Linked DNA regions of Homo sapiens: regions 2, 3, 4 and 5 are each linked to region 1. The links come from fine-mapping of genetic effects on gene expression. A gene starts in region 1. Each other region holds a variant in brackets. All regions are shown on one strand. Distances are between the middles of the regions. Region 1 holds the start of IDUA (alpha-L-iduronidase). Region 2 overlaps GAK (cyclin G associated kinase). Region 3 overlaps FGFRL1 (fibroblast growth factor receptor like 1). Region 4 overlaps TMEM175 (transmembrane protein 175). Region 5 overlaps LOC105374340 (a long non-coding RNA gene).

The links.
Region 2: its variant is fine-mapped to the expression of IDUA in whole blood (INTERVAL, PIP above 0.99).
Region 3: its variant is fine-mapped to the expression of IDUA in breast (GTEx, PIP 0.96).
Region 4: its variant is fine-mapped to the expression of IDUA in whole blood (INTERVAL, PIP 0.94).
Region 5: its variant is fine-mapped to the expression of IDUA in whole blood (TOPMed, PIP above 0.99). The same link has a PIP of 0.9 or more in T cells.

What each region holds. Positions count from the first base shown.
Region 1 is chr4:984,198-990,128 of GRCh38, reverse strand. It overlaps IDUA (alpha-L-iduronidase), which reads right to left and starts at 3,085. Exons shown (of 14, transcript NM_000203.5): 1 at 2,887-3,085; 2 at 2,180-2,320. The coding sequence starts at 3,044. SLC26A1 (solute carrier family 26 member 1) reads left to right here. Exons shown (of 3, transcript NM_022042.4): 3 at 1-2,472. The coding sequence ends at 1,296. RefSeq lists enhancers at 1-356, 357-858, 3,439-3,498, 4,674-4,723 and silencers at 2,619-2,796, 2,579-3,228.
Region 2 is chr4:920,588-927,044 of GRCh38, reverse strand. The region is part of intron 1 of GAK (cyclin G associated kinase); the gene reads left to right. Among named protein-coding and RNA genes, the nearest start is that of GAK, 8.5 kb to the left of the region's middle. RefSeq lists an enhancer at 5,167-5,276. The variant G/TG (reference allele first, on the strand shown) is at 2,869.
Region 3 is chr4:1,024,272-1,030,728 of GRCh38, reverse strand. FGFRL1 (fibroblast growth factor receptor like 1) reads right to left here. Exons shown (of 7, transcript NM_001004356.3): 6 at 6,065-6,418; 7 at 3,831-5,824. The coding sequence ends at 5,382. Among named protein-coding and RNA genes, the nearest start is that of FGFRL1, 16 kb to the right of the region's middle. RefSeq lists enhancers at 3,983-4,482, 4,483-4,984. The variant T/C (reference allele first, on the strand shown) is at 3,458.
Region 4 is chr4:954,579-961,035 of GRCh38, reverse strand. TMEM175 (transmembrane protein 175) reads right to left here. Exons shown (of 11, transcript NM_032326.4): 9 at 5,553-5,631; 10 at 5,146-5,281; 11 at 2,380-3,212. The coding sequence ends at 2,540. DGKQ (diacylglycerol kinase theta) reads left to right here. Exons shown (of 23, transcript NM_001347.4): 23 at 315-2,149. The coding sequence ends at 416. Among named protein-coding and RNA genes, the nearest start is that of DGKQ, 16 kb to the left of the region's middle. The variant A/G (reference allele first, on the strand shown) is at 3,033.
Region 5 is chr4:834,464-840,492 of GRCh38, reverse strand. It overlaps LOC105374340 (a long non-coding RNA gene), which reads left to right. Exons shown (of 4, transcript XR_925033.3): 4 at 1-483. Among named protein-coding and RNA genes, the nearest start is that of CPLX1, 11 kb to the right of the region's middle. The variant T/G (reference allele first, on the strand shown) is at 2,429.

The sequences.
Region 1 (5,931 bases):
CTGGCGGTGCTGCTAGCCGCGAAGGAGCTCTCAGACCGCTACCGACACCGCCTGAGGGTGCCGCTGCCCACGGAGCTGCTGGTCATCGTGGTGGCCACACTCGTGTCGCACTTCGGGCAGCTCCACAAGCGCTTTGGCTCGAGCGTGGCTGGCGACATCCCCACGGGTTTCATGCCCCCTCAGGTCCCAGAGCCCAGGCTGATGCAGCGTGTGGCTTTGGATGCCGTGGCCCTGGCCCTCGTGGCTGCCGCCTTCTCCATCTCGCTGGCGGAGATGTTCGCCCGCAGTCACGGCTACTCTGTGCGTGCCAACCAGGAGCTGCTGGCTGTGGGCTGCTGCAACGTGCTACCCGCCTTCCTCCACTGCTTCGCCACCAGCGCCGCCCTGGCCAAGAGCCTGGTGAAGACAGCCACTGGCTGCCGGACACAGCTGTCCAGCGTGGTCAGCGCCACCGTGGTGCTGCTGGTGCTGCTGGCGCTGGCACCGCTGTTCCACGACCTACAGCGAAGCGTGCTGGCCTGCGTCATCGTGGTCAGCCTGCGGGGGGCCCTGCGCAAGGTGTGGGACCTCCCGCGGCTGTGGCGGATGAGCCCGGCTGACGCGCTGGTCTGGGCAGGCACCGCGGCCACCTGTATGCTGGTCAGCACAGAGGCCGGGCTGCTGGCTGGCGTCATCCTCTCGCTGCTCAGCCTGGCCGGCCGCACCCAACGCCCACGCACCGCCCTGCTGGCCCGCATCGGGGACACGGCCTTCTACGAGGATGCCACAGAGTTCGAGGGCCTCGTCCCTGAGCCCGGCGTGCGGGTGTTCCGCTTTGGGGGGCCGCTGTACTATGCCAACAAGGACTTCTTCCTGCAGTCACTCTACAGCCTCACGGGGCTGGACGCAGGGTGCATGGCTGCCAGGAGGAAGGAGGGGGGCTCAGAGACGGGGGTCGGTGAGGGAGGCCCTGCCCAGGGCGAGGACCTGGGCCCGGTTAGCACCAGGGCTGCGCTGGTGCCCGCAGCGGCCGGCTTCCACACAGTGGTCATCGACTGCGCCCCGCTGCTGTTCCTAGACGCAGCCGGTGTGAGCACGCTGCAGGACCTGCGCCGAGACTACGGGGCCCTGGGCATCAGCCTGCTGCTAGCCTGCTGCAGCCCGCCTGTGAGAGACATTCTGAGCAGAGGAGGCTTCCTCGGGGAGGGCCCCGGGGACACGGCTGAGGAGGAGCAGCTGTTCCTCAGTGTGCACGATGCCGTGCAGACAGCACGAGCCCGCCACAGGGAGCTGGAGGCCACCGATGCCCATCTGTAGCAGGGCCAGGCCTGCCCAGCAGCCTCTGCTCCCTCCTGGGGACCCACAGCAGACGTCTGCAAGCCACTGCTGAGACCCTTCCCAGGGAGGAGCCACCCAAGAGCTGCACTCTTGTGCCACAGCTGCCCTGGGGAAACCGGGGAACCCCAACTGGGAAAGGAGGCCCTCTGATCACACGCAGGACCCAAACACTCAGAAATCAAGAACCTCTGCCTCCGAGACAGGCTGGCCCACAGTGCTGGCTGGGCCCCAATGCACCGTCCCTCAGCTCAGGAGGGATGGGCCTGACCTGACGCTCAGGGTTGACATCTTATTTGAACAAGGGTCCCCCGCCATCATGCAGCCTCCAAGGTGCCAAGAGGACTCCCTATGCCCAGGCCTGCCCGGTGCCCACCCTGCTGGTAGGAGCCAGCGGCTCTGGCCAAGTGCACGAGGGTCTCTGTGTTTCCAGAAGGCCCCACACACCCAAGTGCCCCTCACACCTCGTGCCTCCCCCTCACAGGGTGGCCACCTGCACCAGCGTCAGGGCCCAGGGTGCTGTGACCGATGAGACCTCAGCTCAGCCCTCAGGTGCAGTGGCCCTACCCAGCCTGGCCAGCAGACACACACAGGGATGCTCACGGGTGCACCAGGAGCCAGGTGCGGCGCAGCCAACCCTGAGCCTGCAGGGAGACCTGCAGGAAGCCCACCGTGCCCCATGCAGGGGCTCCCTCCAGCACACAGCCCTCACCCCAGCACAGCCAGCAAGGACACGCTCTCCCCAACAGGGTGCTTCGGCGGGAGGTGGGGGAACAAGGGGTCTTCCGAGCAGCCCCCAGCCCTCCCCTCCCATCTGTGCCTCTGTAAGGGGCTCTGGGACGCCCAGACCCTGCCCGCCGCCCACCTGGTGGTGACAAGCTCCAGCAGCCAGTGGGTCCGGACCTGCTTGATGCCGCGGTGAGGGACGGCGCCCACATAGGCGAGGTTGAGCTGCTGGTCCCAGCTGAGGACGTACTGGTCAGCCTGGCTGTGTGGCAGCGGGGGGCTGGGGACAACAAAGGGGCGGCTCAGTCCCGAGCCTCAGCATGGCTGGCAGCGCGGCTGACACACACGTTCAAGCCCAGGACTGCCCGGGCGCAGGATCCAGGCGCTGCCCGTGCGTTCAGTGACTAATAAAATGACCCTTAGGGCCAGGAATGTGGGGAGGTCCCATCTTCATGGGGAACGGCAGCAGCAGTAAGACGAGGGGCCAACGCCAGCCCTGGCCCTGGCCCTGCCAGGAAGGCGGGTACCTCAGCTCTAGGTGGAAGGAATGGGACAGGCAGGCCAGGTCCCGCTGCAGGGCCGTCCACTCCCAGGGGAGACTCCTGGTTTACCTCAAAGAGCAGGATCCCGGGCATCGGCCTGGGCTGCAGGGGGCGGCCCAGGCTCACGCCCCGGCGCCCACTCAGGTGGAGGACCCACCCACAAACACGGCGGGGGGCGGGCCCGGGAGAGCCAGGGCCCCAGAGGAGGGAGCTCCGGTCTCTGAAGCTCTCACAGTGCGCAGTCAGGGGGCGCCCGAGCTCTCCCCGTGCGGCCAGGGGGTCCCGGAGGCCGCGGAGCGCTCACCAGAAGCCTGTGCTCCTCCAGAAGCGCCGCAGGGGCCACAGCGCGCGGGCCGCGTCCACATGCACCAGGTGCGGGGCCTCGGCCGGGGCCACCGGGGGCGCGGCCAGGAGCGAGGCCAGGAGCGCCAGCAGCGCGGCGCGGGGGCGCAGGGGACGCATGGCCACGCGTGCTCGGGGACTGCGGGGCTTCGGGCTGCACTGCCGGTTCCGCCTCCGGGTCGGAGTCTGGGCGCGCACCCCATGTGACCGCCGCCGCGGGGCGGGGCCTTGGTGAGGGGGCGATGGCCGGGTGGGAGGGGTTGGGTGGCCTCGGGGAGCCTCGGGGAGCCGGGAGCACGGCAGGGCTTGGAGCCCCGCTTCCTTGCGGGCCTCAGGGGCTGCTCTGAGGACCGATGACTCGGAAAGCGCTCAGAAGAACGCTTCGCCCGTTGGTGCTATGTGAGTTGAGCCATTACTGTCTTGTTTTTCTCTGTTTTTGTGTGTTTTTGAGACAGAGTCTTGCTTTGTCGCCCAGGCTGAGGTGCAGTGGCGCGATCTCAGCTCACTGCAACCTCCATCTCCGGGGCTTCAGCGATTTTCTCACCCCAGCCTCCTGAGTAAAGCGTGCGCTTTAGCAGGAAGGAGAATTACCCCAGAAGAGCACACTGGGCCCTCCTTACACTTGGCTTCAGATCCATGGATTCAACCAAGCAGACTGAAAATATTGTTTTAAAGCCAAAGCAATACGAAATAATACATATTTTAAAACAATACAGTATAACAGCTATTTACAGAGCATTTACATTGTTTTAGGGACTATAAGTAATCTTGATTTAAACTACACAGTAGGATGTGCGTAGGTAATGTGCAAATACTGTGCCATTTTATATCAAGTACTTGAGCACCTGCAAATTTTGGTATCTGGGAGGGTCCTGGAACCAATACCCCGAGGATACCATGGGACAACTGTAGTACATGTGTAGTCCATGTATGCATGTGTGAATCCAAGCAAACATTGTATAAAAATAATAATGGAAAGAACAGGCTTGGTGCGGTGGCTCACACCTGCAATCCCAGCACTTTGGAATTGCAGGCCAACACGGGAGGATCACTTGAGGCCTGGAGTTTGAAATCGGCCTGGGAGATGTACCAAGACCCCATCTGTACAAAAAAAAAATTTAGCCAGATGCGATGGTATATGCCTGTGAGGCCCAGCTACCCACGAAATTGAGGTGGGAGATTGCTTGAGCTTAGGAGTTCAAGGCTGAGACGGGCCATGATCACACCACTACATTCCAGCCTGGTTGACAAAATGAGACCCCATCTCTAAAAAAAGAAAAGAAAAAAAGAACAGTCTACTAACAAAACGAAAATACTGGACAATAATCCTCTCTAAGTTGGGAGAAGGATAATTAGAGTTACAGTGTTCTGGGTCTTTTTATTTTGGGGAGAGGGGTTAAAATATTGCTTAACATTAGGTCTTCTTATGTTGAAATTGCATTAAAAGTGATTAGCCATTTAAAAGTGAAATAGTGTGTATATATTCCAAATTAGCAAGGAGGAAAAACATAATACAAAAAAATTCATTAAGAAACTAAAAAGTAAGAAAGGGAGGGAAAGGCGAGAGAAACCATGCAAGTACAGAACTGTCTCCAGGAACAGCGGGGTAAGACCCTCAGTCCAACGACCCCAGAGAAAACAACTAAAATGATGGATAACTCGCTTTAAAAACAATTCCTCAAAGCGTCAGAGAACTGAGAAAAACAGTAAGAAACCACCAGTCCCACACCGTGGTGCAGGACACAGCAATGGAAACTGAATTGTTTCAGACCAGCCGCCTCCTGAGAGCAACCATCAGAACTGGAGAGCGCTGAACGGAACCGTCCAGGGCACTGGGAGCTCTGAGGAGCCTCTGAGGCCTCGGGGCTCTGCAGGGACAAGCCGGGAGGGGGCGGGGCCCGCTTTGGGGCGGCGACTCCACACCCCTGCAGCGTATCCCAGCCACACAAGACATGGCGACACGCTGCTGCGTTCGTTCCTCACACTGTGGCCACAGGACAGAAGTCGAGGCTCAGGCGGGGGGCCTGGTAAAGACTTTGGGTTTTTCTTGGGACCCCAAAGTTCTATCCCCTAAAAGCAAAGGTAAACCAGCAACAGAATTGTCTTTGTGGGGACTGAAGCCAGCCTTAAATCACCTCAAGCCCTGAGAGAATTAAGGTGAGCCGCTCACCGGGACACCTGTGGACAGAAAAGTACACCTTCCCTGGAGGAAGGTAAAACAAAACAAAAACAGACAGAAGTCCTCACTGCACGGTGCTGGAATGGATCCGGGTCAGGAAAAATTATTACAAAGTGCATGATGGGGACATTCACAATTTGGAATATGCCTTGTACATTGTGCAACAAAATTCTACCAATGATAAACTCCAGAATTTTTTTTGTTTTTGTTTTTTGTTTTTTTAAACGAAGTCTCACTCTGTTGTCCAGGCTGGAGTGCAGTGGTGCGATCTCAGCTCATTGCAACCTCTGCCTCAGCCTCCTGAGTAGCTGGGATTACAGGCATGAGCCACCACGCCCAGCCAATTTTTGTATTTTCAGTAGAGACAGCGTTTTACCATCCTGGCCAGGCTGGTCTCGACCTCCTGACCTCGAATGATCCACCTGTCTCGGCCTCCCAAAGTGCTGGGATTATAGGCATGAGCCACCGCGCTGGGTCAAACTCCAGAATTATTAAACGACTCAATGATTGCATCACGGTTGTGAATGGAGATTTTTTGTTCATTTGTGATCCATGCTGAAGGGTTTAGAGGTGAAGAATCAATAGATTTGTAACCAAAGTTGCTCTGGAAATTAAAGCAAAACAATAAATTTAGATTACATACAGAGACTGAGATAAAAGCAAAGGTAGCAAAATATTAACAGTTGGTGAACCTGGGTGAAAACTATATACTGTTATTGCAACTTTTCTGTGAGTTTGAAATTTTTCAAAATGAAAACATTGAAAAAAATATTAAAACCTCATGAAACTTAGTAAAAATTTATTGAATGATACACTTGAACTTGCTTC
Region 2 (6,457 bases), 63 kb after region 1:
AGGTGAGCGGGGAGGGGTGCGGGGCAGTGCGGAGCGCTGGTGAGCCGGGAGGGGTGCGGGGCAGTGCGGAGCGCAGGTGAGCGGGGAGGGGTGCGGGGCAGTGCGGAGCGCTGGTGAGCCGGGAGGGGTGCGGGGCAGTGCGGAGCGCAGGTGAGCGGGGTGGGGGGGGTTGCGGGGCAGTGCGGAGCGCAGGTGAGCTGGGAGGGGTGCGGGGCAGTGCGGAGCGCAGGTAAGCAGGGTCTCTGGGGCTTGGTTAGTTGGTTCTAGGTCATCAGGCCTGTGAGGCCCAGATTCTGCCACAGAGTAGCTGCCCCCTGGCGGCTCTCCTGGTACCAACCGCCTTCACTTCCAAGTTGACAGCTTGATCATCAACATTTGTCCACTTTGGCTAGTTCCCAGCGTGAAGTAAAAATGGTCAGAACCACCACAGCAACCCTTAGGGGCTCTTCGTATTTGCCGAGCATGGTCAGTAGTACTTTATGTGGATTGTGTGGTCCTCACAGTAGCCCTGGAAAGTGGGTACTATAATTACTTCCATCTCGCAGAAGAGAAAAGTGACGTTTGCAGAGATTAGTTGCTTGCCAGAGGTCGAGTGGTGGAGTGGGGGCTGGGAGCCCCAGGGAGGTGTCCTTAGGGCCCCTGTCCTGGCCCCCGTTGCTCTGCGCATTGTGCCCTGGAGGAGATGTCTGAGCATATAAGGTAGTAGAGGCTGTTGGGGCGGAGAGTGACAGGCCAACACCACTTCATGCTCAGCTGCGGCTGACCCTTGGCAGGAACAAGCCTGTGTTACTTCTGTGGTTTCTGTCTGTTAACATACAGGGAGGTCACTCTTGGGGAGGACCCCATGGGTGGGCTCACCATTGGGGGAGGTCACTGTCGAGGGAGGACCCCCTGGGGTGAATTAGACGTTCGGGGAGGTCACTGTCCAGGGAGGACCCCCTGGGGTGAATTAGACGTTTGGGGAGGTCACTGTCGGGGGAGGACCCCCTTGGGGTGAATTAGACGTTCGGGGAGGTCACTGTTGGGGACGACCCCCGGGTGGGCTCACCACTGGGGGAGGTGACAGTTGGGCTGGGCCACTCCCCTTTCCTCCTCCTCCACTCCGTGGACTCCTGGTGAATTGCTCATGGTTGTCTGTGTGGGTGCGCATCCCCGTGTCCCAGTCCGTCTGTGCTGCTGTAACAGAACGTCGTACACTGGGGGCCTATAAACCACAGACGTTTGTTTATTCCTCACGGCTCTGCAGGCTGGAAGTCCAGGCGCAAGGCGCCGGCAGATCTGGTGTCTGGTGAGGTCCAGCACCTTCTCGCTGTGTCCTCACAGGGCAGAAGGGGTGAGGGAGTGCTCTCTGGGGCAGTAATCCCAGTCCTGAGGGCTCCACCTTCATGGCCTAGTCACCCCCAAGGAGGCCCCACCTCCTAACACCATCACCTTGGGTATTAGGATTTCACACAGGAATTTTGGAGGGGACACAGATTCATTCTGTAGTGTTGTGAATTATGTGTGTATTGAAAATGTTGGTATGTGGTATTTTACGTTAGAAAAGTGTCTGTTTCTTAAAAGAGGCCGAGTTGATTAAAAAAGATACTCAGATCTGCCTGTAGTGGTCCTGTACTGACCTCACTGTCCCCCGGCACTCTGTCCCGTCCCCAGCGTGCTCCGTGCATCCTACACGCATCCTGGTGAGAGGTGTCCTCAGCCCTTTGCATGGACGCTGGTGGGCTGTGTGGGGGAAGGTTGCCCAGCTCTGCTCATGGGGCCTGCAGGCTGCTCGGGGGCACCAGACTCTAGTGTCCCAAGTCCTCAGAGTGTCCCCTGGGGGTTTGTTTTATTTGGACATTTTGATGGGTTTAAAAAGTGTCAAGCTTTGATTTGTGCCTTTCTGAGTAGCGAGTTTGGTAATGCTTATTTGCTGCTCAGCCTCCCCTTCTGGCATTGCACATTCATATCCTGTGCCTGTTATTTTTTTATTCTTATTTTTTTGAGATAGAGTCTTGTTGTGTTGCCCAGGCTGTAGTACAGGGGTGTGATCTCAGATCCTGGCAACCTCCTCCTGAGAGCAGCCCCCGGGCAGAACTCCACCCCCATGACCCAATCAGATCTCACAGGAGAGCACTCACTATCCTGAGAGCAGCCCCTGGGGGAACTCCACCACCACAACCCAATCAGATCTCACAGGAGAGCACTCACTATCCTGAGAGCAGCCCCCCGGGGGAACTCCACCCCCACGACCCAATCAGATCTCACAGGAGAGCACTCACTATCCTGAGAGCAGCCCCGGGAGGAACTCCACACCCATGGCCCAGTCAGATCTCACTATCCTGAGAGCAGCCACGCCATGGGGAACTCCGCCCCATAATCCGGTCACCTCCCACCAGGCCCCTCCTCCAACATTGAGGGTCACAAGTGAACATGAGATTTGCATGGGGACGCAGATCCAAACCGTATGTGCTGTTATGAATAAAGATCCAAACCGTGTCCGCTGTTATGAATAAAGATCCAAACCGTATCCGCTGTTATGAATAAAGGTGCCGAGAACATTTTTTTTCAAGTCTTTTTGTGGACGTGTGTTTTTCTTTGTCTTGGGTAAAAAATACCAAGGAGTAGGATTGCTGATTTACAGGTTGGATTTAGGTTGAACTTCACATGAAACAACCAAACCTCCTTCCACGGTAGCTGCACCATTTTACATTTCCACCAGCTGCAGTGGAGAGTTCCTGGCTCTCCACTTCCTCACCAGCATTTCTTGTGGTCTCTCATTTTGATTACATCCATTCTTGTGAGTGTGCAGTGGTGTCGATCTCATTGTGATTTCATTGGAATTTCCCTGATGATGATGTTCAGCAATTTTTTTTTTTTTTTTTTTTT[G/TG]AGAGGGAGTCTTGCCCAGGCTGGAGTGCAGTGGCTCCATCTTGGCTCACGGCAAGCTCCACCTCCCAGGTTCAAACAATTCTCCTGCCTCAGCCTCCCAACTAGCTGGGATTAAAGGCATGCACCACCATGCCCAGCTAATTTTGTATTTTTTAGTAGAAATGGGGTGTCACTATGTTGGTCAGGCTGGTCTCAAACTCCTGACCTCAGGTCACCCGCCGGCCTTGGCCTCCCAAAGTGCTGGGATTACAGGCATGAGCCACGGCGCCTGGCCTTTTTGTCCATTTTTTATTGGGCAGGGAGTTTCTGCTTACTCTGGATACAGGTCTTATGTTTATATATTTATATAATTTATGTGAGAAAGAGAAGGCAAGCCTTAGCTGTGGTCACTCTGCTGTCCCAGGCCAGGCTGCCTCAGGGAACCTGGGCCTTGAGATTTGACCTGGCTTGAGCATTTGATGTCTCTGTGCCTCCACTCCCCACCCCTCCACTCCCTGCCCTTGAGATGAGGTCTTGCTTTGTTGCCCAGGCTGGAGTGCAGTGGCATGATCACAGCTCACCACAGTCTTGAACTCCCGGACTCAAGCGATCCTCCCACCTCAGCCTCCCAGGTAGCTGGGACCACAGGCACGCACCACCACGCCTGGCTAATTTTTAATTTATTTCTGGTAGAGATGGAGTCTTGTTATGTTGCCTGTAGGCTGTTCTCAGAACTCCTGGGCTCAAGTGATTCTCCCACCTCGGCCTCCCAAAGTGCTGGGATTGCAGGTGTCAGCCACTGTGCCTGGCCTGTGCCTGTTCCTTAATTGGCAGAGTGTGTGCTGTAAAATGTATATAACAGGGTCTTGGAGGTACCCGACATGCCATTCTTTAATGTCTTATACGTTACTATTATTTTTAAATAAACTGTATTATTTTGAGTTCATTGTAGGTTCCCACGCGGCTGTGAGAAAAGATGGAGATCTTTTCTATTTTAGACCCTTGCCTGGTTTCCCCAGTGGTGACGGTCGGGATGCTAACCCTGGTGCAGGTGAGGCTGTGGAAGTCTCCATCCCCGTAGGGAGCCCTCATGCCACCTCTCAGCCACGCCATTTCCTTACCCTCTGGAAACCTCTAGTCTTTGCTCTGTCTGTGATTTTGTCATTCGAAGGATGCAGTGTAAGGGGAAGTGCAGAATTCTTCAGGTAATTGTGTGTCAGTAGCTTGTTTCCCGTGGTGAGACTCCTCTGCGTGAGTGTGCACGGCTTGCCCAGCCAGCCACCCGTGGAAGGACATCTGGGCTGTTTCCTGTTTTGGCTACTACAGATAAAGCTGCTGTGACACTTGCGTATAGGTTTTTGTGTGAATATACGTTTTCATTTCTGGGATAAATGTTTAAGAGTGCAGTTGCTGGTTCATGTGTGGTAATTATGTGTTTAGTTTGTTAGAAAACTGCCAGATTGTTTTCTTGAGTGGCCATACATTCCCACCAGCAATGTAGGAGCGTATCAGCCTGGTTAGGCTGCCATAACAAAATACTCCAGACTGAGTGGGGAGCAGTAGAAATTCACTCTCGCAGTTCTGGAGGCTTGAAGGCCAAGAGCAAGATGCTGTCAGTGCTGATTCCAGGAGAGGCCTCTTTTGCTGGTTTGCAGATGCTGCCTTTTTTTTTTTTTTTTTTTTGAGATGGAGTCTCGCTCTGTCACCCAGACTGGAGTGCAGTGGCGCAATCTCAGCTCACTGCAACCTCTGCCTCCTGGGTTCAAGCAGTTCTCTTGCCTCAGTTTCCTGAGTAGCTGGGACTACAGGCGCCCACCACCATGCGCCGCTGATTTTTGTATTTTTAGTAGAGACGGGGTTTCACCATGTTTCCCAGGTTGGTCTCAAACTCACGACCTCAAGTGATCTGCCCGCCTCGGCCTCCGAAAGTGCTGGGATCACAGGCCTGAGCCACCGCGCCCGGCCGATGCTGCCTTTTTGCTGAGGGGATGCTGACATCTCTGGTGTGTCTTCATCTTATAAGGACACCAGTCCTATTGGATTAGGGCCCCACTCGTATGAACTTATTTATCCTTCATTACTTGAGGGCCCGTCTCCGCATAGGGTCATCTGGGGCTTCCGCAGATGCATTTTGGGGGCACACAGTTGAGTCCCTAACAGCGAGTTTCTCTTTGTACTCACCAGCATTTGGCGTCGTGGTTTTTACTGTGATCATTGTGATACATGTGTAGCGATACCTCCTTGTGGTTTTGATTTGCATTTTCCCGATAGCTTGGGAGTGCTTCTTTGCCATCTGCATATCTTCAGGGGTGAAATGTCTGTTCATGTCTTTTGCCCACTTCCTAATTATGTTTTTTTGACCAAGTTTTGAGTGTTCTTTATTGTAGATTTAAGTCCTTCGTAGACATGGGGTTTTCAAGTATCTGTTCCTAGTCTGCAGCTTGTCCTTTCGTCCCCTAAACAGGATCTTTTTGGACGCAAACTCAGACCAGTTAATTAAAAAAAAAAAACAAACAAAGCGGGGTCTGTTGCAGATCCAAAGTTTTTCATTGTGAAGTCTGATTTATTTTTCCTTTTACGAATCACGCCTTGTCACAGCTAAGGATTCTTAGCTCTTTATCTTGAAGATTTGTCTCCTGTGTTTTTCTGAAAGTTTTAAACCTTCACAGTTGCAGATTTATGTCCGTGTTTATTTTGGTGAATTACTGTATGTGGCTGGCATTTACATGAAGCTCATTGTCTGGCACCATTTGTGGATCTTCCATGGAGTTGCTTCTGTGCCTCCCTCAGAAATCATCTCGATGGGCTGGGCGTGGTAGCCCAGGCCTGTAATCCCAGCACTTTGGGAGGCCAAGGCACCTGAAGCCAGGAGTTCGAGACCAACCTGGGCAACATAGTGAAACCCCGTCTCTACTAAAAATACAAAAATTAGCCGGGCGTGGTGACGCACGTCTGTAGTCCCAGCTACTGGGGAGACTGAGGCAGGAGAATCGCTTGAACCTGGGAGGCGGAGGCTACAGTCAACTGAGATTGTGCCACTGCACTCCAGCCTGGGTGACAGAGCGAGACTCCGTCTCAAAAAAAAAAGAAAAAGAAGAAGAAATCACCTGGATTGATTTGTGTGGCTGTTTCTGCGATTTTCTTTCCATTCCAGTCATCTTTGTATCTGTCCCTCTGCCAATACCACATAGCCTTGATTAATTTAGCTGTGTAGTAAGTCCTGAGATCAAGTCCAGATATTACTATCTTTAAAAATTATGAAATATTTTAAAATGCAGAAAAATACAGTAACATAACGAACACCTATGTCCTACTATCCAGAATAAACGTTAACCTTTTAACAAAATAGTATCTGGGGCCGGGCATGGTGGCTCACACCTGTAATCCCAGCACTTTGGGAGGCCGAGGCAGGGGGATCATGAGGTCAGGAGATCGAGACCATCCTGGCCAACATGGTGAAACCCCGTCTCTACTAAAAATACAAAAATTAGCCAGGCGTGGTGGTGGGCGCCTGTAGTCCCAGCTACTTGGGAGGCTGAGGCAGGAGAATCGCTTGAACCCGGGAGGCGGAGGTTGCAGTGAGCCGGGATTGTGCCTCTGCACCGCAGCC
Region 3 (6,457 bases), 40 kb before region 1:
ATGCAGCTGCCAGCACAGTGGCGGGAGCCTTCCGGGGAGACCCACCTGCATCCCCTCGCTGGCCACACTCCTCCCAAGGCAGAGGCAAGGGAGAGACAGGCCGAGCAGAGGAGGCCAACGGTGGCGAGTGCGGCCCCTGGGCAGAGCCGGTGTTTCTCAGGGACTGGCGTCTCTCCTCAGGCACTGCAATGCAAACCTAAAATTCATCGGCAACCCAGAGCCCTGGAACACAGGCCTGGGTCTTGTGTGGCTGAGGCCCAGGACCCGCCAGGCCCCACCAGCCCCCAGGAGAGCCCCTTCCCCAACCCAGGCAGCCACCTGGGCCGGGCACACTGTGAGGCCAGCACAGGGCACAGAGAGCCCGAGACCACCAGGCCCCGCCCACCGCGTCCCTGCCCCGCCTCACCCAGCGTGGCTCCACCCAGCACTCTTGTCCCCCGGGACATCTGGAAGCTTCTCCTACCAGAAGCTAGCTCCAGCCATGGGAGGGGGACTGTCCCAGCCCAGCCCGAGGGGCCCAGTGCCCCACACACTTGGCCCTGTGGCCTCCCTGCCTCTGCCTCCAGGAGGTGCTCCCATGTTCAAATCCTGGGGGACCCCTGGCAAACCCCAGCCCCACAGCAGGTCCGGGGCCCACACAGTGCCCCAGGGAGGCTTGGCTGGTCCCTGCGTCCTGGAGCCTTGTGTCCCAGGGCCGGATCTCTGCTGTGCGGGGAGTCCCATCGTGCACCCCGAGCACACAGCCTGGACCCCTCTTCCTGGCCTGCACCCCTCTTCCTGGCTTGGGCCCCATCTGTGCTCCTCGTCCCACGTTCCTGACCCGGTCCCCCAGCCCCCAGCCTCGGCCTGGGACAAGGCTGTGATCTCTGGCCAGGTCCTCTGACCCACGGGCCCATTGGGTGGGGCTGCCCACATCCCCTATCTCTGCCTCATGCTGCCACCCTGTCCCTGGCAGCAGACGCAGGCACCCCCGGGACAGCTGCAGGCGGCTTATGGGCACCCCTTTGAAGCCAGGAGGGCCGGGCGGGGGCGGGTCACACCCGGGGGTGTTGGAGCCTGGGCAGCACTTTCAAGTTAGCCGGGCTTTACAGGGAAGCAGCTTATCACCACCAGGACAGGGCCAGGGAGGACCATGGGCCTGGCCCCGTGCCCACACCCTGCCCCGCCATGCTGAGCCTCCCCCGGGCACCACCATCTCGTACCCAAAGGGCCTGGCCTGGGGGCCGCCCTGAGGACACAGCCAGGTCCCCTCCGTTGACTCCTGGGCTGCAACCCCCACCACTACAACCCACACCACCAGCAGCCCAGGACAGAGCCAGGGACGGGTGCCCAGCCCTGTTCCCGTCCCCACAGCACGAGCTGCCCCATGACCTTCCTGTGGTGGCCAAGGGCATGGGACCTGGTCTTGCCCACGTGAAGGGTGACAGTGGAAGAGCCAGGAAGCCCCAGGTGCAGCCCCTCCCTGGGGAGACGGCTGCCACTCTGGGCTCCTCCCTTCTCCCTGGGCCCCCTCGGTCGCCCTGCCCCTCAGATTCCATGCCCCAGCCCCACCCCTGCAAGGGCATTGCCCAGAAGCCCGCTGGCCCCCAAGGAGCCTCCCGACGCGTGTGTGTCGGTCTCTTCCTGGGCCTGGAGCCCCCATGGTGCAATGGTGTGCAGGTGACCCGGGCAGGACAGGTGAGACGGGGCCCACAGAGCGGCACCCCCACCTCCCACAAGCCCCACCCGGCCCTTCGAGCCTCCTGGCCAGTGAGCCTGGGGTGAAGGGCTCCCCATCTTTCAGGTGCTTGGCCGGAGCAGACCACTGTCAGAAGCGCAGTCCTGCCCTCTGTCCTGCTGGCCACACTCACGCCCTGGGCGCCTCTGCCCGCCTCCTGCCTCAAGTCCTCGAAGCACACGGGGCCTCTGTGCTCCCAGGCCTCCTGCACGTGGAGGGGAGGGGAACGCAATTTTGTTCTTGGGAGTGTGGACGTGCAGATGTGACGAGGGAGCCGGCGCAGGGCACAGACGCGTGCTGCCGTGACGGAGATGCGGGAAACGGCATCGGGATGGCCGTGTGGCTGGTGGGGGGACAGGAGCCACGGGGACAGGAGTCCACGGGGCAGGGCCAGGCAAGAGACAGCCAGGAACACAGGCCAGGCGTCCACAGGGCAGGGCCCCGGCAGGCTCAGGCTGGAGACCGCCGAACAGAGGGGCGTGGGGGCGGGAGCAAGGCTCTCGGGACTGGACGGCCAAGGGGGAAGGGTCTGGAAGTCGCAGGGGAGAAAGCAGGGGCTCCAGGCAGCCCCTGAGGAAGGCTAGGGAAGGACTGAGGGGTCTGAGCTCCAGGCTATTGGCCCGGGGGTGGCTGGGGCCCCATAGGCAGGAGATGGGTCTGTCCTGACTCCTTGGGGTCCCCCTGCCCAGCCTGGCATCCAACGTGGCCACAGCATGACAAAGTCCAGAGCCCAAGACCCAGAGGCTAGGCTGTGCCAGACCTGTCCGTTGAGGACCACACAGCACTAGTCAGCACCTCCTGTGGGCAGGCGCAAGATGGGCTGGACCACAAGTCAAGGGTGGCCCTGAGTGGGGGCCTGGACCTCACAGCAGGCAGGGTGCAGGCGTGGGGTCTGCGGTCCCAGTGTCTCCTTCAGAGGCTCTAGGGGACAGCCCTCTCGGACTGCCCATCCCTCCGCCCACTCCCTGGGGAGGGGCAGCCTGTCCTCTGCAACCCCATGACCCGCTGCCTGAGGCCTCCCTGCTGCCCAAGGTGGCCAGACGCCTGAGGTCTCCCTTCCACCCTCCCCTACTCCAGACTGAAACCCGACCAGGCGTCGGCCTGCAGCCTGTCCTGTCTGGGGAACATCTGTTTGGCTGCCAGCTGTGGGCCGCGTGGAGCCCCCACTGTCCCCCAGTCAGGGTGGCCAGGCCTCCCACAGCACCCATCAGCCACACGCAGCCCTTACCAGGGCCATGCCTGAAGCTGTCACCGTCCAAGGAGTCAGGACTTCCTCAGGGGAGAGAAGTAGGGTCTACCCTGGGGAGGACAGAGAACAAAAAGGGGACATCTTGAAAGCCATGGGGTCCCCAGAAGCTCCAGTTGGGGAGAGGTCCCTGACACCTCTCCCCAGAGCCCACCTGTCGTCTTTGAAGCCAGGCAGGGTGAGCTTCCTCCAGGGAAAAGCTCTCAGAACCAGAGCGGGTCAGGAAGCGCGCTGCACGCCAGCAGGACCAGGCTCCGGGGACGCAGTGGGCCTCACGCTTTGCTGAATGCACGAGGGGCCCCGGTGCCTTTTCTTACGAGGCTAACGGAACCCCCGGCAGGCAAGGGCCCCGGGTGGAGCTGGCAGCCCCACCCCTCCTGCTGACCGGGTAAGATGGGGTCGGCCACCGTCGCAGCACCGCAGGGTGGCTGGGAGGGCACTCGGACGGAGCCCTGAGGTCAGAGGTGACCTGAGCCTGGCCCCATCCCCAGCTC[T/C]GAGGCCAGTCTGCTGCCTCCTGTAGGGCCACCCACCAAAGCCTGAGGAGGGGCTGGGGAGTGGCCAGGCCCTGCACTGAGGGCCATAGGTGCCAGCCCCAGGACACAGAGAGGGCGCCGCTGGGACAGGGGTGCAGGACGCAGGCCTGGCCAGGCATGTGGGCAGTGCTCACGCCCAACACCACCGAAGCCCAGTATACCCAAACTCTCCCGCCGGGAGGTGCAGTTCTCAGCCCCTGTGGCTCTGGCCCAGCGAGGGGACTCCAAGAGGGTTAGGCTGCTGGTTCTGGAGACCAGGCCTGACACACAGGCACAAATGTGAGCACACACGAGCATGCACACGTGCATGTAGACATGGGCAGAAACACCAGCCTGGAGGGAAAGGATGCACTTTCATGTTTAACAAAATAAATTAAATATACGGGGCTTCAGCTCAAACTCTACATAAAATTACAGAGATCTGGGGCCACCACGACAGTGGGGTGGGGGGTGGTGTCTGGCCTGGACGGGGTGTGGTCATCAGCATGGCTGAAAGACCAGGCGGGTCCCGGGCCCCAGGAGAGACCACAGTCCCTGCAACCCAGTCTTCCTTCCATCATTATTAATATTATCTTCATTTCTTAAATATAAATACCAAGGCCCCTTCTCTGTGTCAGGGGGAGAATGCAGTGGGGATGAGCCACTAGCCATGGGCTCCAGCCTCTCAGGCTTGGGGCTGCTGTGCCCCCAACCCCAGCCCACAGCAGTAGGGGACTCCTGGGCACCCAAGGCAGGTGGCAAAAATAGCCGCCAAGGCCAGGGGACAGAGGCGGGGATGGAGGCGGGGACTGAGGCGGGGACAGAGGCGGGCAGAGTTGGGGGAGTGACGGTGGAGCAGGGAAAGTCCCTCATCAACTATGAGCCTCACGGCACACGTACTGCAGGCTTCACGGCACACCCTCCCAAAAGCACGTCAGTCTGCGTGTGTCCAGGCAGCATATCTGCACCTGTGTGTGCATGTGTGTCCGGAAGTGTGTGCCCAGGCAGCATATCTGCATGTGTGCGTGCGTGTGTATCCGGACAGCATATCTGCACGTGTGTGCATGTCCAGACAGCATATCTGTGCACATGTGTGTGTCCAGGCAATATCTGCACGTGTGTGAGTGTTGAGGCAGCATTATCTGTGTGTGTGTCCAGGCAGCATATCTGCGTGCGTGTGTGTGTCCGGACAGCATATCTGTGCATGCGTGTGTGTGTCCGGACAGCATGTCTGCGTGTGTGTGTGACTAGACAGCATATCTGCGTGTGTCCAGGCAGCATATCTGCGCCTGTGCACGTGTGTCTGGAAGTGTGTGTCCAGGCAGCATATCTGCATGTGTGTGCGTGTCCAGACAGCATATCTGTGCACACGTGTGTGTGTGTGTGTCCAGGCAATATCCGTGCATGTGTGTGTCAAGGCAGCATTATCTGTGTGTCCAGGCAGCATATCTGTGCACGTGTGTGTCCGGATACCATATCTGCACGTGTGTGCGTCCAGACAGCATATCCGTGTGTGTGTGTGTGTCCAGGCAGCACATCTGCGCATGGGTGTGCGTGTGTATGTTCAGGCAGCATGTCCTTGTATGTTCTGGCATGTCTCTGTGCGTGTGCGTGCATTTGGGCAGCTTATCTGTGTGCCCAGGCGGCATATCTGTGCATGTGCGTGTGTGCGTACGTGTGCCTTCAGGGAGCACGTGTGCGCGCATGTGTGTGCATACATGCATCCAGGCAGTGTGTGTGTCTGTGTGTGTGTGTCCAGGGGCTATGCCTCACACACAGACTGCCTGGGGTGCTGGCCATTCCTCCTCGCCATGGGTCCCCTGCCTTCGTCTGCAGCTCCGTCCTCCATCCTCCCAGTCTGCCTGTCTGGCCGGCCCCCCCGTGCCCACTGCAGATACGGTGCCGTCTAGCACTGATAGTGGATGTGCTGGTGGACCTTGCCCTCCACGTGTGAGTGTGTGTGAGAGTGTGTGTGTGTGTGTGTGTGGATGTCTGTGTAGAGTTTGGGGTACAACTTAGGGCCAGCAACTGGGCCTGGGCCCAGTAAGTGCTGGGGGGCTGCCGGAGACCCATGCTCCTCACACAGCCCCACACCAGGGCCAGCGCTGAGGGCGGCCAACGAGGGAAGGTCCTTGTCTCCGCTGCGGTCGCGGGCCGTCCCCGGCGGGCGGTGCCCAGGCAGGGGAGGGGCAGGCGCGGGGGTGCACGGCTTCTTCTGGGCCTGGCAAAGCCACAGGAGCAGGGTGCCCAGGATGAAGACAGCGCCGGCTGGGATGCCGATGACCACGGGCCACGGCAGGCTAGTGGCCGAGGACGAGGAGGCCACAGGTGGCCCTGGCGGTTTTGGGTCTGCAAGAGCGAGAGGAAAGGAGGTAGGGAGGGGAACGCCGACACAAAGACCAGGAGAGCACCCCAGACCCATCCCAGGGGCTGTGGAGACGGTGCCCCTGGGCTGCCCTCCCTCGGCAGATGACCTGGCCAGCACGGCCCGGGAGGGAAGGGTGGGGCCCCACCCGGTGGGTGGGACGCCGGGCCCAGGGGGCGGGTCCGGGCACCAGCATGGTGTGGCGTGGCGTGGCAGCCGCGCACCTGGCAGCACGGTGAGGAAGGCGCTGCGGAAGCTGTAGCCCATGGTGTTGGCGCCAAGGCAGATGTACATGCCCGCATCGTCCTGGCGGGCACGGGTGATGAGCAGCTTATTGAGGTAGGAGCCGTCGGGCCGCGACCACACGTCACCCGTGGGCAGCACCACAAACTTCTGGCCGCCCACATCGATGGTGGAGTTGTGGCGGCCCTCGGCGCCGTACTCCACGCGCTTCAGCCACTGGATCACCGGCTTCACGTCGCTGCGCACCTTGCACTGGAAGGACGTGGTCCCCCCGAAGTCCACCGTCGTGTTCACGGGGTGCGTGCCTGTGAGCACGGGCTTGGAACGGGTCCGCTCTGTGGGAACGTGGCACGCGGGCATGGCTCCTGGGCCGC
Region 4 (6,457 bases), 29 kb after region 1:
GGCTGGAGAGCCAGGGGAGGTGGGCCGGGCTGGGCCGGCCATGGGAGTGGCCAGTGGTACCCAGGTGGTGCTGGCATGGCCGGCTGCGGCCAGGGAGCACTGACTCCGGGAGGGTGCCTGCTTCAGAGGAGGGCTGTGCCAGTGGCCAGGCGGGCCACAGGTGGCACAGGGAGCAGCCAGACAGGTCCCTCCCCTTCCGTGAAATGGGGCTGAGATGGCATCAGCTGCCCGGGGCCCCAGGACCGGGGGCTGCCCGTGTACCGTTCTTTCATCGGCCATGTCACCCTGGTCCTCTGTCCCCTGCCCTGGGACAGGTGCACATGCTGAGGAAGGCCAAGCAGAAGCCGAGGAGGGCCGGGACCACCAGGGATGCCCGGGCGGATGCTGCGCCTGCCCCTGAGAGCGATCCTAGGTAGGGGTGGCTGGGGCAGCCCAAGGGCTCGAGCCATCTCTGCTCCCGCCAGCCTTGTTTTCAGGTGGTCTGGAGGCAGCTCCACGTCCACACAGTGGCCGGCCCTGTGGTCGGACCTGGCTACAGCCCTGACCACAGCATCTTCCCAGTGACGGAGCGGGACCCGCCCTCATCCCATTGGTGACACATGTTGGTGTCACAGCCCTCATCCCACTGGAGACTGGTGTGCGGGTGGCAGTGTTACCCCGTGTCCCGGGTGGGCGCAGGGCTCTGGATGGTGAGCCCTCTGCCCTGTGGGGGCCTGGTCCTCTCCTCAGGGGTGGGCACCCATCCCTCTCCCCACTGAGCCCCTTGAGCTGGACAGTGCTGGATGCAGGCCGTCCAGGTGGGTCTGATCTCACTTTGTGCCCCTCGGGCCGTCCCCCTGGCCAGTCCTTAAGAGCAGCAGGCTCCCTGGTGTGTCCCTGCCCCAGCAGACACAGGCTGCCAGTCCCTCCAGCCTCACCTCCCCGCCCTGGGCAGCAGGTGTGGGCAGCGTGTGAGGCTGCCGGGTGGTGGTGACTGGTGACTTCCTTGTGTTCAGGGAAGGGAGAAGGTGCCTTCCCTTGTTTTCTGGCCTTGTTATATACAGATGGCAGCTTGGATCTCAGGTACAGCTCCAGGGGCAGGCAGTGCCCAGCTGGACCTGGTGGCCCTTTCCTAGTGCCTCTGCTTGGGGAGGAGAACCTCTGTCCACGTGGAGGCTAGGAGGTCTCAGGTGCTGCCCTGGCAGCACCAGAGTGTGGGCCGGGCCCGAGTGTCTGCCCCTCGGCCCTCAGGGTGGGGCACTTAGCACCCAGAAGGGACCAAAAGCAGGGCATGGCGGTGCAGAGGAGTTTGGGAGGTGTAAACAGCCCATGCACGTGGAGGAGGAGCTGGCTTTCAGCCCCAGACCCCACGCTAGCACTTTCCACGCTGCTTGCCCGCTGTTGATGTGCAGTTCCCAGTGCCTGTGTGAGCCGACATCTGCTCAGTCCTATCCCTCGTCAGCGTGTGGAGACCCAGCTCCTGCAGCCCTCCTGCTCCCACGCCCCCAGACAGCTTGGTGGAGGGTCCTGCATCTGGGCCAGGCTGGGGTGCACCCAGCCAAAGACAAAGCTGCCTCCACGTGCCCAAGGATTCAGATGGTGCACTGGCCCCGGGAGGAGTCTGACCAAAAATGGAGCCCGCTCTGTGGGGAAGCCCCGACTCCCCCACGAGAAACGGTCCCACGGTGCGGATCTCCCCCTTCCCTTGTGGGGCACAGCTGGCCTGGGCCTCCAATCCTGCGGAGCTTTCCTGGGTGTGGCTTTGACCTCAGAAGTGGCTCTGGTTTGGCCTCAGGAGTGTGGCCTGGCCCAGCCTGCTGCAGCCTCCTGGGGGGCCCTTGATGCCACTAATCCCCCGACCCCCCGCATCTGCCAAACTGCACAGACACACGCATTGTAAGGCCGCTTGTGGCCTCCAGCGTGCACTCTTGTTTACGTCATTGTCATCTTCAAGACCAGTCCTTTGTGATTAGTTTTGCTTCGCGAGCCCTGGTGTGGACTGTGGTCTGTATGAATCGTGTGTAACTGTGGTGAGGGGCTTGTCCTGTATGTGAGTCTGTACCCAGGTGGGGTCTGTGCCCTGCACACCGGGCCCCTCTGTATTTATCGCTGCCTGAATGCAACAGTAATTTATATCCAGGACAAATACAGTCTGGGCGTCACTATCCTACCATCTCTTCCTCATCTTTGTGTCAACAACCGAGGGGAGGGGAGGGCCTGGCTTGGCACCCCCGACCCCACCAGCTCTGTATAGGCCTCAAAGGGGCTGGGAGTGGGCTGCCCCTCGGGTAGGTGAGCTTGGCAACGTGTCTTCAGGTTGGAGAGAGTGGATAGGCAAATGCCATAAAGCACATTTCCAGTTCCTGTGAAACTCCTCTCTCCGCAAAAAGTGGAGAACAATTTGAGGACTGAAATAAGAGCATGATATTTCACAATGAAAATAAAACCAGGCCACGCAAGAACCACTGCGGCCTGCCCGTGACTTGGCTTCCCCTGCCCAGCATCCTGTCCTCCCTGGTCCATCTCTGGTGAGGACGGCTGGGAGTGGGCTCTGTGGCTGCTAGCAGGGGGCAGGGAGGAGCTGGGACTGTGGGTCGTCCTGGCCCGTGGGGGCTGGCGGGGGGTGTTCGGGCCGGGCGAGGCCCCGCAGGACCCGCAGGGTGGCCAGGGCCAGGCCCACGAGCAGGCGCAGCAACAGGAAGGCGCAGGGCACGGCGATCTGCATGAGGTGGAAGATGCCCACACTGAACCTGCTCAGCAGGCAGGTGGAGGCGAAGGCCAGCAGGCTGGCACAGGGGTACAGCGCCAGCTTGGCGAACATGAGCACATGCTCCCGGCCGCCAAACCACACCGAGGGCTGCAGCGTCTCCGCCTGGTGCAGCAGCGCCGTGGTCCACATGGCCAGCTGGAAGATGCTGGCCAGGAAGATGATGGTGCAGCTGACACGCACGCGCTCCAGCTCATCGCGGGGCTGCCGGGCGAAGGCCGAGGTCTGCTGGTAGGCTAGTGGGAGGCCACCCACGAAGGCCAGCGAGAGCGTGTTCAGCAGCCCC[A/G]TGGCCCGCGTGGCCTTGCGCACATGCAGGAAGAGTGAGTGGTGGGCGAACCACAGCAGTCCCACTGTGGCGAAGGAGCCGAAGTACGCCAGGAAGCGCGGCCCGGTCGCACTCAGGGCGGCCACGAGGCTGCCGCTGAACCTCTCCTTCACATCCTTGGGGTCCGGGACGTTGTCTTCGCTGAGAACAGTGAATAGATGCATTTGTGCCGGCCTTGCCGTGGCCACACAGGCCCCAGCAGGGTGGCTGAGCGCCTGTCAGGGCTGCCTGGATCTGGCACGTTTTCAGATGAACCATGTGGACTTCCCAGTGTGCTAAATTTCAGAACGCCGTATTTATGTGTATTTGGCACACTGACTGTTACGTGCTGTTCATCTGAAATTCCATAGAAACTGGCACCCTTCTGCTCTGTGCTAATGGGAGCCCAACCCTGCTGGCCCAGAGTGCTGCTGGGGGCCCTGGGCTGCAGCCCTCTCTGGCCGAGGCTCTCCTGTGTTTGCTGGGCAGGACCAGCCTGCTGTGGGGCAGCGAGGTCTGTTCCCTCCCAGCTTCCAGCCCTCGGAGCCACCCACACAACACCCTGGCTGAAGATCTGCAGAGGGCTTGCCTCCACGGTTCTCAGATGCACATGGGGGTCTCAGGAGGCCAACTCCCTCCACAGGGAGGCTGTGGGAACCCCCTTGTCAGGGCTGCTGCCTTCTGACGGCACCACCCAGAAAGCCGGGAACAGTGTCGTCCTTCAACATCGGGAAGTGAAGGACAGTGGTCCTCATGCAGCCCCAGACAGACTTCTGTCCTCCAGAACAATACGCAGAGGGCGAGGGGTGAGGGGTGGGGGTTGGGGGCAGGAGACAGACTGGAGGCAGCAAGGGCAGGAAGTTGCTGGGAGGGGGCAGCTCCCCTGGCCATGGCTCCAGGTGGAGGAGAGGTCACTGTCCCGGCCCCACGCTGCTGCCTCTCTTCGGCAGGTCCCTCCCAAGGGGAGCCTCAGCTGGCCTGCACAATCAGGCAGCTCACCCTGGAGCATCCCTGGCACCTGGGCCTTAGAGATCAGATGCCAATGAACGTTTGCTTCCCGTTTTTAAAAATGCACACGACAGCAGAGAAGAGCATCAGGAGACTTGGACTCGAGAATATCAAGTACAGGATATAAAACCATAGTGTCTAACCCCAAGGTGGTCACAGTGCTGAACTATGACGAGGGAACAAGACACTCCAAAAGGATGGAAGATGTAAAAAAGCAAATTCAAACATTACGATGGCCGGGCACGGTGGCTTACACCTGTAATCCCAGCACTTTGGGAGGCCGAGGTGGGCAGATCACCTGAGGTCAGGAGTTCAAGACCAGCCTGGCCAACTTGGTGAAACCTCATCTCTATTAAAAATGCAAAAAGTTAGCTGGGCATGGTGGTGGGTGCTTGTAATCCCAACTACTTGGGAGGCTGAGGCAGGAGAATTGCTTGAACCTGGGAGGCGGAGGTTGCAGTGAGCTGAGCTTGAGCCACTATACTCCAGCCTGGGCGACACAGCAGGACTGTCTCAAAAAAAAAAAAAAAAAAACCCCACAAAAACCAAAAACGTGACGACTGAGACGAGACGCGCGCTCTAACAGACGAAGAGGCAGATGAGGCCGCGGAGGAGCAGACGCTGGAAGGAAGCAACAGCCAGCCAAAGGGAGCAGGAGGGGCTGCGAAGCGATGGGGGGCACTGGGAGGGAGCCGGAGGGAATGGGAGGGACTAGGGACTAGGAGGGGCTGGTGTTGGGGCAGGGGTGAGGCCTGGGGCAGGGGGATACCCATGGCTGCTGAGCCCCTCTGAGAGGAGTGAGGAGAGCAGTTGGCTGCTGGTGCTGACCTCACCCTGGCACCCCATCCTCGGCTGTGCTTGGGGTGGGAGCCGCTGGGAAGGGAGGGGCCGCTGGGAAGGGAGGGGCCGCCGGGAAGGTTGTCCTCCCTGAAGTGGGGGCTGCCCTGACCTCACACAAAACTCTAGGCATCCAGAGGAGGGTGGAGCCAAGACCCCTGTGCCTTTCTGGGGTTTCCAGGATGAGACGCCAGGGACTCAAGACACATTGGCCACCTGATAGCTGGGGCAGGTGACGCGGGGTCCTCACCAGATGTCCAGGATGAGAAGCGTGGCCACGATGGCGTAGACTCCGTCGCTGAAGGCTTCCACGCGCTCCTTGCTGAGTGGCTCGTGGAGGTCAAACGAGAAGACTTCCACTGGGTGAGCCGAGGGCTCCCTGTGGCCTGGGGACACGCCAGGAGGGTGGAGCTGGCCAAACCCCCCATGTGGAGGTAGAGCCCGCGTGGCTGTCACCGCCCTCATCCATGAAGAGGCCTGGAATGTGCAGGCCAGGAGAGGAGACAGGACAGGGACGCCCGAGGGGCGGAGTGGGGGAGCCCCAGCCACCACCACGCACACGGGCCTCGGCCCACGGACAGCCCTCAGTGCGGAGCAGCCGCACGGAGGTGGGCGGACTACAGGCCTCTCAGGCCAGCCCACCCAGTCATCACCTACCCAGGAGCCTGTCTCTGCACCAGCCGGTGACCTTGCTGACATAGGGGAGGAGGATGACAGTCACCATCAGCAGGTAAGACTGCAGGGAGACAAACCGCAGGTCAGTGCCCTCCACAGGGGTCCGAGGCCAGGCCTTACCCACACAAAGCTGTGTGCCAAAGCAGGGGCTGCGGCAGAAGGGAGGGTCTTTGCAGATCATGTATCTGATGGGGCCTAGTACCCAAAAAGTGTAAAGGATTCTTAAGCCAGCACAGTGGCTCATGCCTGTAATCCCAGCACTTTGTGGGGCTGAGGCAGGTGGATCGCTTGGGCCCAAGAGTTCGAGACCAGCCTGGGCAACATAGTAAGACTGTATCTCTACGAAAAATAAAAAATTAGTCAGGTGTGACTGTGTGTGCCTGTTGAACCTGGGAGACAGGAGTTGCAGTGAGAGGTGACCCAGCTCACTGCACTCCAGCCTGGGTGACAGAGCAAGACCGTGTCTTAAAATTTATCGTCTATCTCCCTATCTGAAATTCTTACAACTCAAAAATAAAAGGACGACCCAATTAAAAATGGGCAAAGGATGAGAACAGACATTGCTCCAAACAAAACATGCAAATGGTCGACCTCTCGCAGATCAAAACCACAACGAGATTCTTCATATCCACTAGGATGGAGAGAACTGAAAAACAGCAGGTGTTGATGAGGATGTGGACAAACTGGAACCACCATGTGCTGCTGGTGGGAATGTAAAATGCTGCAGCTGCTGTGGAAGTTTGGTGGTTCCTCAAAAAATTAAACTTAAAAAATTAAACAGAATCACCAAATGACCCAGAAACTCACTGTGGGCACACACACCAACAGCCTGAGAAGACAGATCTGAAGAGACACGTGTCCAGCAATGCTCAGAGAGGCATCACTCC
Region 5 (6,029 bases), 150 kb after region 1:
TTATAAAGAAATTTTGAAATATCAGAATAGGACTATATCAAATAAATGGAACTTATAATTAAAAACCTTCTCAAAACAACAACAACAAAGATTAAAAAACTCCAGACAGGTTTACTTTGAAATCTATCAAACTTTCAAGGAAATAGTAATACCAAATCTATACAAACTCATTCAGAGAACAGAGGAGGAAGACATACTTCCCAACTTAGTCTATGAAGTCAGCATTCTACTGATACCAAAACCAGACAAAGACATTACAAAGAAAGAAACCTACAGGCCAGTCCAGTGTCTCTCAGGAATGAACACAGATGCAAAAATGTTTAACAAAATGCAATCAAATTGGATTCAACAATATATAGAAGGTGGGGGGGGGATTGTATCCAGGAATGTAACATTCACTTAACGTTCAAAAATGAGTCAGTGGAAAATAGTGTTTTATCTGGGAACTGCAAAATTCATAACAAAATAAAATACATAAACACTGAATAAAATGAGTCAATGTAATTCACCACATTAACCGAATAAAGGAGAAAACTCATGAGGTCATCCCAATAGATACAGATAAAGCATTTTACAAAACTGAACTATTTGTGGTAAAAACCGCTATAGTTTGGATGTGGTTTGTGCTCACCAAAACTCATGTTGAAATTTGGTTCCCAGTGTGGTAGTGTCAGGAGGTGGGGCCTAGTGGGAGGTGTTTGGGTCATCGGGGCAGATCCCTTATAAATATATTAATGCCTTCCTAAAGGGTTGTTAAAAAGAGTCTACTGCAAGAGTCTTCCCCACCCCATCCATCTGTTTCTCTCTCCACTCTTGCCATGTGATCTCTGCACATGCTGGCTGCCCTTCTGCTTTTGGCCATGAGTGGAAGCAGCCTGAGGCCTTCACTAGATGAAGCTGCCCAATCGTGAATTTCTCAGCTGCCAAAATTGTGAGCCAAATTAACCTCTTTTCTTTACAAATTACCCAGCCTCTAGTCTTCTGTTATAACAACAGAAAACAAAGACCAAAACTCATAGCAGGCCAGGCACAATGGCTCATGCCTGTAATCCCAGCACTTGGAGAGGCTGAGGTGGGTGGTCACCCGAGGTCAGGAGTTCGAGACCATCCTGGCCAACATGGTGAAACCCTGTCTCTACTAAAAATACAAAAAATTAGCCGGGTGTGATGGTGAGCGCCTGTAATTCCAGCTACTCCAGAGGCTGAGGCAGGAGAATCACTTGAACCTGGGAGGTGGAGGTTGCAGTGAGCCGAGATCACAACATTGCTCTCCAGCCTGGGCAAGAAGAGTGAAATTCCATCTCAAACAAACAAACTCATAGCAAACTAAGGATAGAAGGGAATTTCCTTAACCCAAGGAAGGGCACCTCTGAAAAGCCTGCAGCTACCATCATACTTAATGGCAAAAGAATGAATGCTTCCCCTGAGAAAAAGGCAAGGATATCTATCTCATCATCTCTTCAGCATTGTACCAGAGGACTGATCCCAGCCAATAATAGGGGAAAGGCATAGAGAATGGAAAGGAAAAGGAAAACTGTTTTTAGACACGTACACGATGACTAGGCTTGTTTAGAAAATCCTGAGGAACCTACAAAATATATAACTAGAACTACTAAGCAAGCATAGCAAGCTTGCAGGATACAAAGGCAATATCAAAAATCAATTTTGTGGAAAACAAGGTAAATATCTTAAAATGAAGTCAATAAGAAAAAAGAAAAAATCATTTTTGTGCCTATGTAATAGTAGTGAAAAGTTGGAAATAGAAATAAAAAATACCACTTACAATAACATCACAACCATGAAACACTTTCAGATAATTTTCATGAATATCTGCAAAACCTATTTACTCATAAAATTATTGCTGCAAAAATAAAAATAAAAATCCTGCAAATTTTGTTAAATTTTTTTTTTTTGAGACCAAGTCTTGCTCTGTCCCAGGCTGGAGTGCAGTGGCGAGATCTCAGCTCAGTGCAACCTCCCCCTCCCAGGTTCAAGCAATTCTGCTGCCTCAGCCTCCTGAGTAGCTGGGATTACAGGTGCCTGCCACCATGCCTGGCTAATTTTTGTATGTTTAGTAGAGACGGGATTTCATCATGTTGGCCAGGCTGGTCTCGAACTCCTGGCCTTAGGTGATCTCCCCTCCTCGGCCTCCCAAAGTGCTGGGATTACAGGCTTGAGCCACAAAGCCTGGCCAGTTTTGTTGAAATTTAAATAGAACTAAATAAATGAAGGGGCATACCATGTTCATGGATTAGAAGACTCATATTAAGAAGTCAATTCTCCCCAAACCAATCTATGCATTCAATGCAATCCCAGATTCCATCAGACCTTTCCATAGAAACCAACCAGCTGATTCTAAAATGTATATGGAAATGCAGCAAACCTAGAAAAGCAGAAAGCATTTTGAAAAAGGACAAAGTTGAAGTAC[T/G]TAACTACCTGCTTCCAGGACCCGCTGTAAAGCTACAGCAGGGAAGATGTGGTGCTATTGCATAAGGATAATACACAGATCAATGGAAAAAACAGAGTCTAGAAATAGACCTACATAGCCATGGTCCATTGATTTTTGACAGGAGTCCCAAAGAAGTCAATGGGGGAAAGAAAAGCTTTTCCAACAAAGAGTACTGGAATTGGACACCCACAGAAAGAAAGGAAAAGCCCTTACCTCATAGTATACAGTCCCCACCCATTGGTTTCCACCCCCATCTGACTGTCCTCTCAGCCTCAGAGTGGGCCCCACCCAGCCATCCTAGTCATCCTGCCTCGGTTCCAGGTTCACCCTTCTCTTATCCCTGTAGCAGAAGGTCAGGTGGGGAGGAGGTGGTCGGGGGGGCTTCCTGGAGGAGGATGAGAAGGGCTTGGATGAAGGAAGGAGCAGCATGCTCAGGGCAAAGGCACAGAGGAGAGATTCAGGGTGGGGGTCACTTCTGAACCCAGCCCAGACACTCCTTTCTGGGGTTCAGTGTGGGCAGGGGGCTGCATTCCCAGGTCCACAGGGTGCAATGGTGCCTGGAGGAGGGGGAGTCAGGAGTAGTGGGCCACATGGCTCTATTCCCATGCTCTCCTCCCTGACAAGGACAGACAATGCCTCCCTGACAATGGCACTTATCAGTCTGTAGGTAACTTGAGCTGGGAATGTGGGCAAAATAGTTGGTGGCTGAACTACAGCTTGTTCATGACACAATGGCTGCAGGGGCCACATGCCACCCTGAGCTGGCGGGTTCATGGGGTCACAGTCATTGCTGTCCTCTGCCCTCTGCCTGTCCCCTTCAGGTGGCTGGGCCTTCCTGGTCCCCTCCTTGGCTGCGGTGGAGGCCGAGGACAGCCAGGACCCAGGGGAAGACACAGTTCTGTGGTGGCCAGGCCTGTGGGCACCAGGAGCAGAGGGAAGGGAGGATGGCTGGGGCCAGGGGTCTGGGAGCAGAGGGACGCTCAGCCACCTGCTGCGGTGGGCGGCTGATGGGCTGTGCGAGAGACACTGGTGTGGGCAGAGGACTCGGGAAACTGCAGCCTCCCAAGCGGGTCGGGAGCTGGCCCAGCCCCGGGAGGCCCCTCTGCCGGGGAACGAAGCCAAGGCCTGAGAGTGACGCAGCCTCCCAAGGCCACGCTGCCGGCGAGGGGCCAGGCCTGTCCTTCCCGAGTGCAGCACCACTTCTGGGACACACACGTGGTTCTCAGTGCTAGGGGCCGGAGCAGCCCCCGCCGGCCTGGCCAGGACTGAGTGCAGGAAGGGGCTGCCCCAGGCAGTGTGCTGGGAGGGACCTGGGGCCCTCACGGCTCGCAGCTGCCACCAGAGCTGCCCCCATTTTTTTTTCTTTTAATGCTTAAAGAATGCAGCTTTATTCATGTCCATTGGGGCAGCTCAAAACGTAGTTGATAAATCTATTCAAATTTATTTTCCTAGTAGAAGCCCTGAAGGGGTTGTTTGCTGTTTGTTGAAATGAAATCCACGTAACATAAAGCGGACTGTTTCGAAGTGTACGATTCAGCGGCGGTTAAGCGCATTCATGCTGCCATGCAGCCACCGTCGCCGCTCTCTGGCTCCAGAGCGTTCCTGTCACCTCTCAAGGAGACGCCATCCCAGTCCCCCGCATGCTCCCCAGCCTCAGCAGCTGCAGTCGCATTTCTGTCTCTGCGGATTTGCCTGTCCGGACGTTCCCTATAAACAGAAGCGTGCACCTCGAGGCCTTTGTGTCCGGCTTCTCTCACTGACATGCCGTCTTCAAGGCTTGTCCACGCCACGGCCTGTGCCACAGCCTCATTCCTCTTGAAGCGGAATCAAGGTCCACGTGTGGCGGGACCACAGTTTGCGTGTCTGTGCTCTGCCGATGGCGCTGGGCGGCCTCCCCCGTGGCTGCCTCCCCCGTGGCTGCTGTGGCTTGTGCTGTGGTGGACGCCGTGTGCAAGTCTTTGTTCTAGTCTGGGATGCACTGGACATGGGGCACCGGGCCCCACGGCAGTCAGTCCAGCTTATGAGGATGCAGGTGCCCTGCGGACACAGCGCCTCCGCGCTGGACACCGACACGGGCCGGCAGGTTCAGATGAGCTTCTGTCCCCGTGTGCTCGTTCTTGCTGCCGCGCTGGCTGACACAAAGTGCAGGACACGTCAAGGGAAGCAAAGGCACTCTTTCCTCGGGGAGCTCCACTCCTGAGGACGCAGTCCGGGTGTCTGAGCCCAGAGGCCACTGGGAGAGGAGTGGGAGCTGCCAAAGCTGTCTTGGCCCCTGAATGTCCTGAGGGGCCCCCGGTGATGTGAGCTGGGGACTCTCAGCCCAAGGATGCCGCGTGCGGCCGTGGCCTGAAGGGCTCCGCGGGGCACGCTGCGGCCCTGCCTTGTCTACCTCTGGCCTCTCGGCAACTTCCTGGCAGTGGCACAGCCGGGGCTGGGGAGTCATTTGCTGTTGGGACCCGGCCTGTGAACAGCAGGAGGGCTGCCGAGCTCTCAGGCAGGTTTGGAATTCTCTTATCAGCCGGCCTGGTTGGACTGCGGCCAGAAATCAGGCGGCTGTGGCACTTCCGAGCCTTCTCCTTGTGCCCTCCGCACCCAGCTGCACCCGCTAGGTGCCGGCCACACCTGCCCTCAGTGCCTGCAAGGCATCTGCTGGTTCTGCAGCTGTGGCAGCCCTCTCTGCTCCGTCCCCCTCGGCTTCCTGCCTCAAACACCATCTTCTCAGAAACAGACCACGCCCGACTGCCACTGCAGCAGGATGACCCGAGCCGGGGGCTGAGGACTCCACGTCCCCCCAGAAGCCCCAGGTGGCAGCAGACCCCGACTGTCCTACCGCAGGCGAGCTGCAGTGGGTGCCTGGTTGGGGCGGGGTCAGAGCTGTCCTGGGTGGGAATCGATGGGAGAGAAGGGTGGGGTGTGGCTGGACTGCCCTGGACAGTGGCTGTGGCTGCTGGAGCCCAGGGGGTGTCCAGACCCACAGCCCGGCCTGCACAGGGGTCAGGGCTGGGGCGTCGGCAGGGCCCTGCCTGCCTCCTTGGGACCTCAGGAGAGGGCAGCCCACCCCACTCCAGGGAACCACAAGAAGCCACTCTGGGGTCTCTGGTCTGCAACCCGGGGCCTCTCCTGGGCGGTGTCCAGGGCACGGCAGACCCCACCACTGGACTTCCCGCCCCTGGCTCTGCCTGCCTCTCGCTTGCTCTGCAGAGCCCCCAGGGGCCCCTTTGCACTTTCAGCCTTGGCTCCAGCACTTTCTACCCAAGACCCTGGTCTCTCTGTGTCCCATCTGTCCCCTCACCCACAGCGTTCCTCAGCCCTGCCGTCTCTGGCCCCTGCCGGGTATTCTGACCTCCCAGACACAAGCCCCAAAGCCATCCCAGCACCACAGCCACAAGCCCAGGGGACGCTTCCGTGACCTTCCTCTGTTCTAGGGAAGGAGTGGAGGGGTGGCAAGGGGAGTCCCACCCAGGCCTCACCCGGGGGGCCGCATCCACGCCGCATCCAGGCAGGTCCCACGCTGTGACCACTCCTGCCCCGGGCTGTCTCGTGCTGGCACGTCCAATGTGCGTGGCTCAGCCAACCAGGG